3 linked regions of the Homo sapiens genome follow. The protein of the gene in region 2 interacts with the protein of the main gene of each other region in a biochemical or structural test. Each region holds a gene or a part of one and is shown on either strand. Other genes may lie near its edges.

What was found. Proteins that work in one complex are often made in the same cells at the same time.
Region 1: the proteins of LMO7 (region 2) and DGKK interact in a test that uses a peptide from one of them, tested with the Homo sapiens proteins (one large-scale study listed by IntAct).
Region 3: the proteins of LMO7 (region 2) and SLCO1C1 interact in a test that uses a peptide from one of them, tested with the Homo sapiens proteins (one large-scale study listed by IntAct).

What each region holds. Positions count from the first base shown.
Region 1 is NC_000023.11:50,460,826-50,464,325, reverse strand, and holds part of DGKK (diacylglycerol kinase kappa), read left to right. Parts: intron 1-3,500. UniProt on the Homo sapiens protein: Diacylglycerol kinase that converts diacylglycerol/DAG into phosphatidic acid/phosphatidate/PA and regulates the respective levels of these two bioactive lipids.
Region 2 is NC_000013.11:75,800,330-75,803,829, forward strand, and holds part of LMO7 (LIM domain only protein 7), read left to right. Parts: intron 1-354; coding exon 355-553; intron 554-3,500.
Region 3 is NC_000012.12:20,701,832-20,705,331, forward strand, and holds part of SLCO1C1 (solute carrier organic anion transporter family member 1C1), read left to right. Parts: intron 1-3,500. UniProt on the Homo sapiens protein: Mediates the Na(+)-independent high affinity transport of organic anions such as the thyroid hormones L-thyroxine (T4), L-thyroxine sulfate (T4S), and 3,3',5'-triiodo-L-thyronine (reverse T3, rT3) at the plasma membrane.

The DNA.
Region 1 (3,500 bases), on a different chromosome or scaffold from region 2:
CCTTATTCTTAAAATACAATTTTTTTTAAGATTTAAAATAAAATTAAGAATGGAAGGGTATATGTGTTGGTGAAGAGGATATTACTAATGAAACAAAAACAGAATCCTCTTAAAGAGAAGAAGTACTTCAATGTCACAAAGACCCATTAATTTTCCTGTCAAAACACAACCAAAAAAAAAAAAACCGATTTTTTTAAAAGAAGAAAAAATGAAAGAAAATCCTTCTAATGGGAGTTGACTCAAATTCACTCAAAAACTTTATTCTTTTTATTTTATTTATTTATTTTTAATTAATTTTTAACTGATGCATAATAGATGTACATATTTTCAGGGAACATGTGATAATTTAATATATTTATATAATTTACCAAAAGATTTATTCTTAATATAGAATTTTTGTAATTTGAGAACAAATAGAAAAGATAGGTAGGGGAGAAACACAAAGCCAAGAAAGTCCTCTTAAACAAAAGTATTCTCAGCCTCAACAAAGCCCCTTTTTTTCTCAAAACAAGCAAATACATTTAGAATTATGGGGGGCGGGAAGGGAAGAACATGAACAGTATATTTTAAAGAGAAATATTTTTCTTAAGGAATGAAGATGCCCCCAAACTCACCAAAGTCCTTGAATATTTTTCTGAAAACAAAAAAGAAACAAAGAGAAGGAGAGAGGGAGAAAGAAGGAAGAGAAGGGAGAAGGAGAGAGAGAAACAGAGAGAGGAAGGGAGGGAGGAGGGGAGAAGGAGAGAGGGAGAAAGAAGGAAGAGAAGGGAGAAGGAGGGAGAGAAACAGAGAGAGGAAGAGAGGGAGGAGGGGAGAAGGGAGGGAGGGGGAAAGCCGGACAGGTAGAGAGGAGAGGAAGGTAGGAGCAGGTAGGGAGAGACTGAGATAGGGAGAGGAAAAAAGAGGGAGAGAGACAGAGGAAGGGAGGGAGCCAGAGAGAGAGACAAAGGGAGAGGTGGAGAGGGAAAAAGAAAGAGGGGGAGAGAAGGGAGGAGAGGGAAAAAGAAAGGGGAGACGGAGGAAAGGAGAGGGAGAGAGGAAGGAGGATGGGGGGAGAAATGTGAAGGGAAGGGGAAAAGGACTAGGTAGGATAGAGTGAAGGTGGCAGAGAAGGAGGGGTGGGAAAGAGGAAGAAGAAAATTAACAAAGGGATTATTTTTTAAAGGATCAAAGAAAGAAATTCTCTCCAGGAAAATGCACCAACACCTTACTGCAGACATTGCGTATTATTCCTGATGACTACCCTCTCCATCCCCCACAATAAGGAAAAAAAAACCACACACACACAAAATCTCTTTCTCAAGCTTCTTCAAGGTGGGGAATGTGCGTGTGGGGGGGGTGGTGGGTATGTACCCAATCTCACCCTATCCCAGGGACCTTATGTATCTTTCAGCCTTCACTGTTTCATTAAAAAAAAAAAAAAAAAAAAAAAAAAAAAAAAAAGCAAGGAAAGGAAAAGAAAATCTTTCCAGGAGAGATGTCTCCCATTCTAATTTTTCCCAATAAACTGTTTCTTTTAAAGAAAAGGAAAGAAAGAAAAATCCTACTAGGGAGGGCTCCCCAGCTTCATTAAAACAAGTTGCCCTTGTAGGTCCTCTCCACAAAACCTATTTTTTAATGGAAATCCTCCAGACCTAAAGAGAGATGCTCCCCCACCTCCACCAAAAGCAATGAATCTTTTCCCCTGGAGATTTTTAAAGAAAAAAATCTTCCATTGTAAGAGGAGATACCTTCAACTTTACTAAAATCAATGGACTTTATTCCTCTCCACATCCAAGAGGAGAAAAAAAATATTTGAGGAAAAGGGAAGAAATCCTCCTAATCTAAGGCAAGTTGGCTATAATCCCTCCAACACCATTGAACTTTCTTCCTGAGATTTTTTAAAAGAAAAAGCAAAGACAGAAAAAAAGCCTCAAAAAAAAAAAAAAAAAAAAAGCACTCACTTCTCCCACAGGCTCCACAGATCTGAAGTGTTGTACAAAGAAAAGGTACTATCCCTCTCAAATGGCACCAGTGAACTTTACATTCAGCACTAAGGCTAAAGGATGATACATTTTAATCCCAGGCTGGCTTCCCGCTGCCCCAGTCTATTTCTGGTTACCTTCCCCATCATCCAGGTAGGCAACACTCCCAAGAAAGGCACTGTCCAAAAGAAAAAGAATTAGGAGGCAAACCTTCTGGGGAAAAATCATACCTCTTTTCCAAACCGAACAAATGATTTGGGAATTCGCTGCGTCATTGTTCCCATCTAACACTACAGAGAATTAAGAGTTGATGATAAACTCAAAAGCAGTGACACTCTTGCTATTAACTACCAATTAGTCAGACACCCCTACCTAACAGGGAAGGACCCTTCGCCAACTCAGTAATGGAGGTGATCCATCCTCCATTATGTTTCATTATGTGCTGGCTTTGATGTCTGTTCCTGCAGGGCGATAAAAGGGCTTGATTTTCACAAATCCATAAAATTTGCAAATCATATTTATAAGCAGAGAGACTCAATTAATGTTTTCCAAATTTTAAAATTCATTTATTTCTTTAAAACGTAAACTGATACCTGCTCCCTATGTGCTATGTGTTTAACATTGTGCTAACCACTGAGGATTCTACAGTGAACAAAACCACATGGATGAGACTACCTTTAAGCAAAACTGGTAAATGAGAGACTCAATTACCAAAACAAATATGCAGATGGTGGTTATTTGTTTTACCAGATGCTTTGCCAAGGTATTCACTATTAATAGTCAGTTCTCTCAGCATTCCTCTACTTAAACTAAAATTCAATGTAATAAAATAAAGGAATGCATGCTAATTTCAGAGAATGTGGAAAATCAAGAAAGCTTCTAAAAAGTAAATAAAAATCATCTAGTACCCCACCACTCAGAGATAATCACTGTTAATATTTTGCTATATTTTTCATTTATTTTCTCTGAATATTTGCTTATAGTCTTCTGTAGTAAGACTTTGGGGAATGCACAATTGTGTCTCGGGCTTCACCCTGCCCCAGTCACAGCCCCACACGCTTAATTATTAGATCGTGTTCATTATTCTACCTTGGATTTAGGAAACACTTGTTCATTTTAGCTTAAAGTTCATCTAGTCAAACTCCTGTCTGATCTGATTGTTAAACATATGCTTGAATCACAACCATTCAGGGGCATATTTGCTGTGTGAAGCAGTAAGTATATAGATTTTATGTAGACACAATTGTTGCAGTTGCTCCCATATACAAATGCAGTTTGATCTCACATTTACTTACTGCACTTTTTTGGACACTTAGATTTTATTTGTCCAGTTAGCTTTTGTGACTTGGCCTTGGAGAAGGAGATCCAGAACAAAACCAACCTTATCTTCCCACTGTTAAATTCCCAAAGGGAAAAAATCTAAATTTCTGAGTCACTTTTAACTATATGCCAAAAAAAAAAAAAATTAGTGATGGCTTTGTCTCTTTAACAAGAAGTTACAGCATTATGCTAAACTGGGTATGCCATACCCAGAAG
Region 2 (3,500 bases):
ACTGTAATAACTGAGTTTAGCATTTCAATGTTACTCTATGAACTTTCATTAAACTAGTAATTTTCCTTATTTTTAAATAGAACATATGTACTAGTTTATTAAATAATATTGAATATCTCCTTATTATTACTTTGAATATTGAATACCCCCTTATTGTATCAGTTGTGGGCAAACAATTACAAATTTATTTTCTGTTTTTCATCAGCTTTTTGCTGTGTCCGACAGAGAAACCTCATGCCTTACATGTCAAATAAAACCCAACTTAAATTAGGCAAACAAGCAAGTAATAACCGATTGATTATATTTTTTGGAAGTTTATTTAACTTACTATTCTTTAAAAAACGTTTTCTTTAGGCACTCGAAGACTCCAGCTTCCTGAAAAGAAGTGGCAGGGACAGTGGCTACGGTGACATCTGGTGTCCTGAACGTGGAGAATTTCTTGCTCCTCCAAGGCACCATAAGAGAGAAGATTCCTTTGAAAGCTTGGACTCTTTGGGCTCGAGGTCATTGACAAGCTGCTCCTCTGATATCACGTTGAGAGGGGGGCGTGAAGGTGTGTTGTGTTTTGGCTGTCAGTTTATTTGTTCACATATTAAGGGAGAACTGGGAACAGGAGAGAATAGAAAAATGGAGCAAAAACTAGGCAAAAATTTCACTTAGAAGTGGATTTTCATAGAGACTGGAGTATAATTGGGGGTTTTGTTATTTTTTTCTCCTTCATGATGGTGATAGTTTCATTTTTGAAAAATTTCATTTCTGGAAAGGACTGAGAGGTGACAGTTAATTGTGGCCTGTTTTATCAGTGATAATCTATCCTGGCTCTTCTCTCTCCAGATTCAGGCTTAATTTGTGTTCAAGAGTTCTATAAACTGATATATCTAAACATAGAAAGGAATATAAGATTCTGCAAAAAAAAAAAAAAATCTTCTAGTTTCTGAGTAACTTTCATCCTTGGCTTTTTTCAAAAGATTAAAAAAACTCTCTTAAGCAAAAAAAGAAAAATATTTTTACAATTATTTCTATAGATGAGAAGAAATGATTGCTATCTATCATGATAGAATATTATGTTAAACTTTGTAGATTGAGTAATATACCACCACCTAACATGCAGGTAGAAATCCTCTTTTGGTCCTTTCAGAGTCAGAGCTAACCCAGGACAGAGCAAGTGTGAAAGGAACATGTTAGAGACATTCTGTTGCGGGAAGGAACCTTCTTTCAAAATCCCAAGCTTATGGTCAGTTCAGTTATTTCAATGCACATCTTATTCCTGTGGCTACTGGGTATAGCGTCAGCAATTTCTGAGTGTACATCTCCAGCTATTCAGATTTGACTAGATTGAAACCACAAGTGAAGTTTTTTTTTTGAAATATTTCTGTGCTTCTATCGACATCAATGTGAAAACATTGAGTTCTGGCTGTGATTTGTGCTTAATTGTTAGGGATTTTACATTGCTTGTGTATTTGGAATATTACTTTTCTATTTCTAGATATTTTTCCTAGCATATCTATGACAAAAATGTCAAAAATCAGCAAACTTAAAATAATTGTACAGCGAACACACATGTATTCGCTGCCTAATTCCACCATGATGTTTTACTATGCATGCTTTATCTTATACTCATCTCTCTCTCCTCTCTCTCTCTTTCTCTTTCTCCCTCCCTCCTTTCTCTATTATAATTTAGTCATCTTATTTTTTGAGGCATTTCAGAATATATCACACTTGTCCTAAATACTTCAGTATGAACATCATTAACTAGAATTTATTCTTTGTTTTACTTCTGATGTGAAACTTATATAAATACAACATGCTATGAATTTGTTTTCCAAAAAACCAATCAACAATTTATTAAGCATGGTAACAAAAAACCTGAAGGCTTTATCTTTTAGAGTAGTAGTTTTTAAAAATAAAAAATGTGAAACGCTATTTCAGCATTAACCTTTATAATTACTGCCACACGTATTGGCTGTTTGCTGTCAAGGTGTGACATTTTCATAGCCCAGATGACGATTCCAATACGTTTAAGGAAATGAATCTGAGTATGTGATTCATCTGAGTGGTTAAAGCTGTAAAAGCAGAGGCTGAAATTCTGAACCCGCTGTATTTCTTTTCCCTTACTGAAGAACCTACTCCATGTAATGACAGAATTTATATCTAGTCAAGGAATAAAAGGGGAAGGGATAGAGGGCATGTGGGAATATGCAGGCTTCAGTCAGTTCAGATGCAGTGGCCCACCCAGCGGTGTGGAATCTAAGTCGTCTTCTCAGATCCTTGTTGGAATGGGCACCTGTCCATGTAACCAAAAGCAGAAGGCCACTGTCACATCCCTTTCTGATCTTGGAAATGGGGCTGCAGACCTTGTTTAAAGAGTGCGTAAGTGAAGTCTTGGAAATTACAACTAAGCGGGGAAAAAAAGCCTGGGATGGAGGCACCAGGCCGATAAAGCTCTTTTGTGATCAGTGTGTTAAAATTCTACTGCTACTCTCTAGATTGTAGTCCTAAATTGATGAGCACTATAATGTAGGGTAATATTTTTAGGATAACAGAATTGCAATGTCACATTCTCTAGTTTTACGTGAAAACTCATATCAAGAATGATACTTTGGGGGAAAAAATTCTCTGCAGGACACCGTACTGGGCTAAAAAATACTTTTTCTTAAAAGTTAGAAAGTAAAATAGTCTCTTTATGACTTTAAAATTCCACATGTATGGATTTCGGCAGGAGTAATTGATATACTTATTGGAAATGAGAAATAAATGTCTGATTTTTTAGAAGGTGGTAAAAAGAAAGCACCAGTTTATTGACTACTACTCCTCATGGTCACAGCTGCGTTTACTTTCCCTCTTTTGCCAAGACTCTACTCTCCTTTTACTCTGTCCCTGTCTCATAGCTGTATGTTAAGCGACTTCCTGTAGACTGTTCTCAGTGTTATTTACTGTAGCTTCCTGCCAGGCAGGAGGGAGGGGAAGAGACTGCATTTAACTCAGGTTAACCCTGCAGGTGCTCTACCTGCTGAGAGCTTGTAGCTGTCAGGCACTGTGCACAGCCAGGCCTGGAGAGAACCCTGGTGAGAAGCAAGTAACATTTCCAAACCTTTACAAGTGCACAGGAGGCAGGAAGAGAAGGGTGTGAAAGAGGGACAGCTTGGCTTGGATCTGTAGTGTTGTTCTCCCCCCTTTTCTTCCTTTGTCTTTAAAAGAGTAGATTCATTCTTCTTCTTTTAAGAAAGCAGATTACTATTTGTATCTATCTGACCTTGAGGAGTATCAAAGGGTGTTCTTTTGAATTTGTGTTTAAATGATTTTGAATCATAATACAGCGTTCCCAATATAATTTCCATGGCCACTCTGAAGAAACTGTGAGTTCTGTGCTCTCATTTGGGCATAAGACTTCAGATTCCTTTGGAACTTTAGAAGTCATCCAGTCCAGCCTCATATCTAATGTGTGATTCTGGTTTATAGAATCTATCCAGACCCTTTACAAGCTTGTTTTTTTTTTTCTT
Region 3 (3,500 bases), on a different chromosome or scaffold from region 2:
GTGTGGAATAATCCAAATGCGCTCTACAAGAATTTACTGCAATGATGAATAGAAGTTACATCATAAAAGGGATTTTTCCACCCAGTGGTCTAGAAAGAAGAATAAAGGGATTCTATTACCAAGAACACAAGATCAGAGCAGGCAATAAAAATTCAAATCTCAGGTGCCTTTGGTTAGCAATTGACTACAGACTCCTTAGAAATTAAAAAGATCGAGTAATTTGAGTCACTGTTTTAGAAGTAATTTAAAGAGGATAATCCTAGTTAGTCTGCTTCCTGAATTGATAAACTAAAAGGCTTTAATTTTTTGCTGAAGTAAACGAAATAGTACCCTCTCTGGTCCTTAAGGCTTGTTTAGATTCAGATATACACCATAGTAAAACCTCTAACTGCTCCAATTTTAGCTTTACCTGGTGAACTTTCAGAAAAGTGAATAAATATTTTTCAACTCTTTAACAATTTATTTCTTTTCATACATACTATGTGTTTTGGTTCTTACTCTGAATATCACAGAAAAAATAAAATGAATAAGTAACCTTTTGCCTTCAGGCATTTGCTTCCCAAATTCATCTTTTGTCATCCTTCCAGAATGACATTTCTTAGTGCCAAATTTTAATGTCCACACAAATAACTGGGCAATCTTTTAAAAATCTTTTTTTAAAACCTGAATTGGTAGGAACAGGATAAAATTCTGCATTTCTAATAAGCTCCTAAATGATACTGATGCTTCTAGTCAGTAGATCACATTTTGTGTAGCAGGTTTCCAAAACATCTGATCACATCAATCTTTTATGTAATTTGCTTAGATTGGCCCGGATGGTTGATTTATTCCTTGAGCCCTGTTCTACTGATGGCCCTGCACTGAGTGAAGGGCCAAAGAGAATCAAGGTAAAGGGTGATACATTATATCATGAGAGAAAAACAAGGAGAAAGAGGTAACTGGTGCAGATAAAAGAATAGAGCAGATATGAGCAGGCAAAACATTATATATCATGATGTTTTGATGTTTTTCTCACTCTAGATTATTATATAAAAATATTTTAGAGCTGAAGAGGCATAGAAATGATTTGGTCCAAAGTTTTGTTTGGGCTCCCAGGTCCTGATGCAACTTGAGAGACAAAGTTTATATTTGATAGAGAGAGTATACTAAGTTTTCACAGGAAGTAGCAGAAAACCATGACTCCAAATTCACATTAATTCTTCCAGACCATTCTAGGTATATAAATTATTTATTGGATTGGATGCCTTAAAATGGCTTAAAAGTTCTCTTACTTCCATTGAAAACCTTTATCCCAAACATCACAGGTTTGCCCTAATTATTTGAGTTACATAAATTTCCAGACAAATGACTTCGCTGAACATAATCTTAATTTACTTCTTTTGCCTCTTTTTGCATTCCTTCTTTTCAAGATTCTAGAACAAATATCATCCTCCGTCTTTATGTTATTTGTATGTGGCAACTTTGTTGAAATTCTATTAGTTTTAATTGATTTTCCATGGAAACTGTAGAGTTTTGTGGACAAATTGTCTAAAACAAAATATAATTTCGTATCTTTCTTTGCAACTCTTAGATTTTTGTTGTTGTTGTTGATATTACCTTATTACATTAGCCTCAGAACTGTGTTGAAGAGAAGCATTTACAATGGACATCTTTCTCTTGTGTTTGACCTTGATGCAAATACTTTTAAAATTTTAGTATTAAGCAATATGCTTGCTTTGTGGTTTTGATAGATACACTTTAAAAGCTGGTTTGCTCAGATTTGTTTTTTCCTAACATAAATCAATGGTTAATTTTATTTAGTACTTTTACAGTGTCTATTAAGTTAACCATGGAATTATTCCCCTTCCATTTGTTATATAGGGATTTAATTAATAATTTATTGTTAGTTGGTGGTACTCTTGTACTACTATAATGAACTGCGCTTGGTTGGGATATTTTTATTTGTATATACTATTCCGTTTGCTAATAATTTGTTTAGGATTTTTACATCTATCTTCATAATCAAGTTTGGGCTCTAATTGTCTTTTCTTATATTGTCCTTGTCCAGTTTTGGTTTTAAGAAAATAGTAGTCTTACAAGATGAATTGAGTAGCTTTCTTTTTTTTCTGTTATCTCGAGTGTGTCTGTGTGTGTGTGTGTGTGTGTGTGTGTGTGTGCATAGACAGACAGAAAAAGAGAGGAGAGCAAGAATATGTTACTTTAAAGTTTGGTAAGACATATTTCTAAAACTTTCTGTACCTGTTTTTTTGTGAGAGGCTAATGATGGTAGATATGGAATAATTTTTATATCCAATTTCATTTTTTAAAGATTTTGTATCATCATTTATATTTCAAATGTATCTCCTGACAACTCAGAAAGGATACTAAGGAAGCAAAAACTTTGATAGATACAGTATATATATGGTATATAGATATATATATATATCTGTATTACAGGTACTGAACTCATATTGTCTTGTATATGACATGCCCATTAACGTAACACAGAAATAGCTTGTAAACAGAAGTGTTTATTGTGTGGTATTGGTGGAGTGTAGGCGAGAATAGGAGAGAATTACCTATAAAGTGAATGTCAACTTTCATTTTATGTTGGTTCGTTTATTGTGGTACATTAACAAACATATAGATAGAATTATCAAAATAATATGATACACAATGTCTTCTACTAAATACTTAAATTTCAAATGAGACATCTTGTGCTAAATTATTCGTTTTTTAATATGAACATTAAGAAGAGCTTAATTCTTCTTGGAGCCATAAAGACTAGGACCACTGTGCAAGTCATGTTTCTCACTATCATTCTTATTATCCTCAAGCCCACAAAAATTACTGCTTTATTTCCAGTTTACTAAAGCTGGCAATGTGCGTGAACAGTAGTAAATTAGATGATTGCTTACAGATGTAGGGAAACATGCTTTGCTCAAAAATTGGAAATGAGGAGAACTTCAAAGCAAGGCCACCCATTAGCCATCACAATCAATTGCTGGGAAATTGTTAAGATCTTACTGTATTTAGCATGGTACATCTTAAAAACTAAATATCTCAAATAAATATAGCTAAAGCTTTAAAGCCCCTTGAAGTCTAAAACCCTAAACAATGTTTATCAAAGCATGTTCTAGGAATCATCTCCATCAACACACTTGAGTTAGTATTACAAATGCAGATTTCTTGGCCTGACCTCAGATCCATGGAATCAGAAACGTTTGGTACTTGCCAAGAATCGCATTTTTAACAAGTTTTCATTTCCTTAACCGTTTCCTGTCAGTATTTTTACGCACAGCAAAGCGTGAGAAATATTACTTGAAACATGTTTAATCACTTATCACCATCATCAACTAAAAGTAACGTGTCACATGCTTCATTAGAGACATTTTAGAAAACCATAATTTCTACTTTCAAAAAAACCCAATATTTTTAAACCATTTTTCACAAAAGAGATAAATGGGCACATTTTATAGAGATTTTGTATTTCATAAAATTTGCTTTATAGGCATATGTTG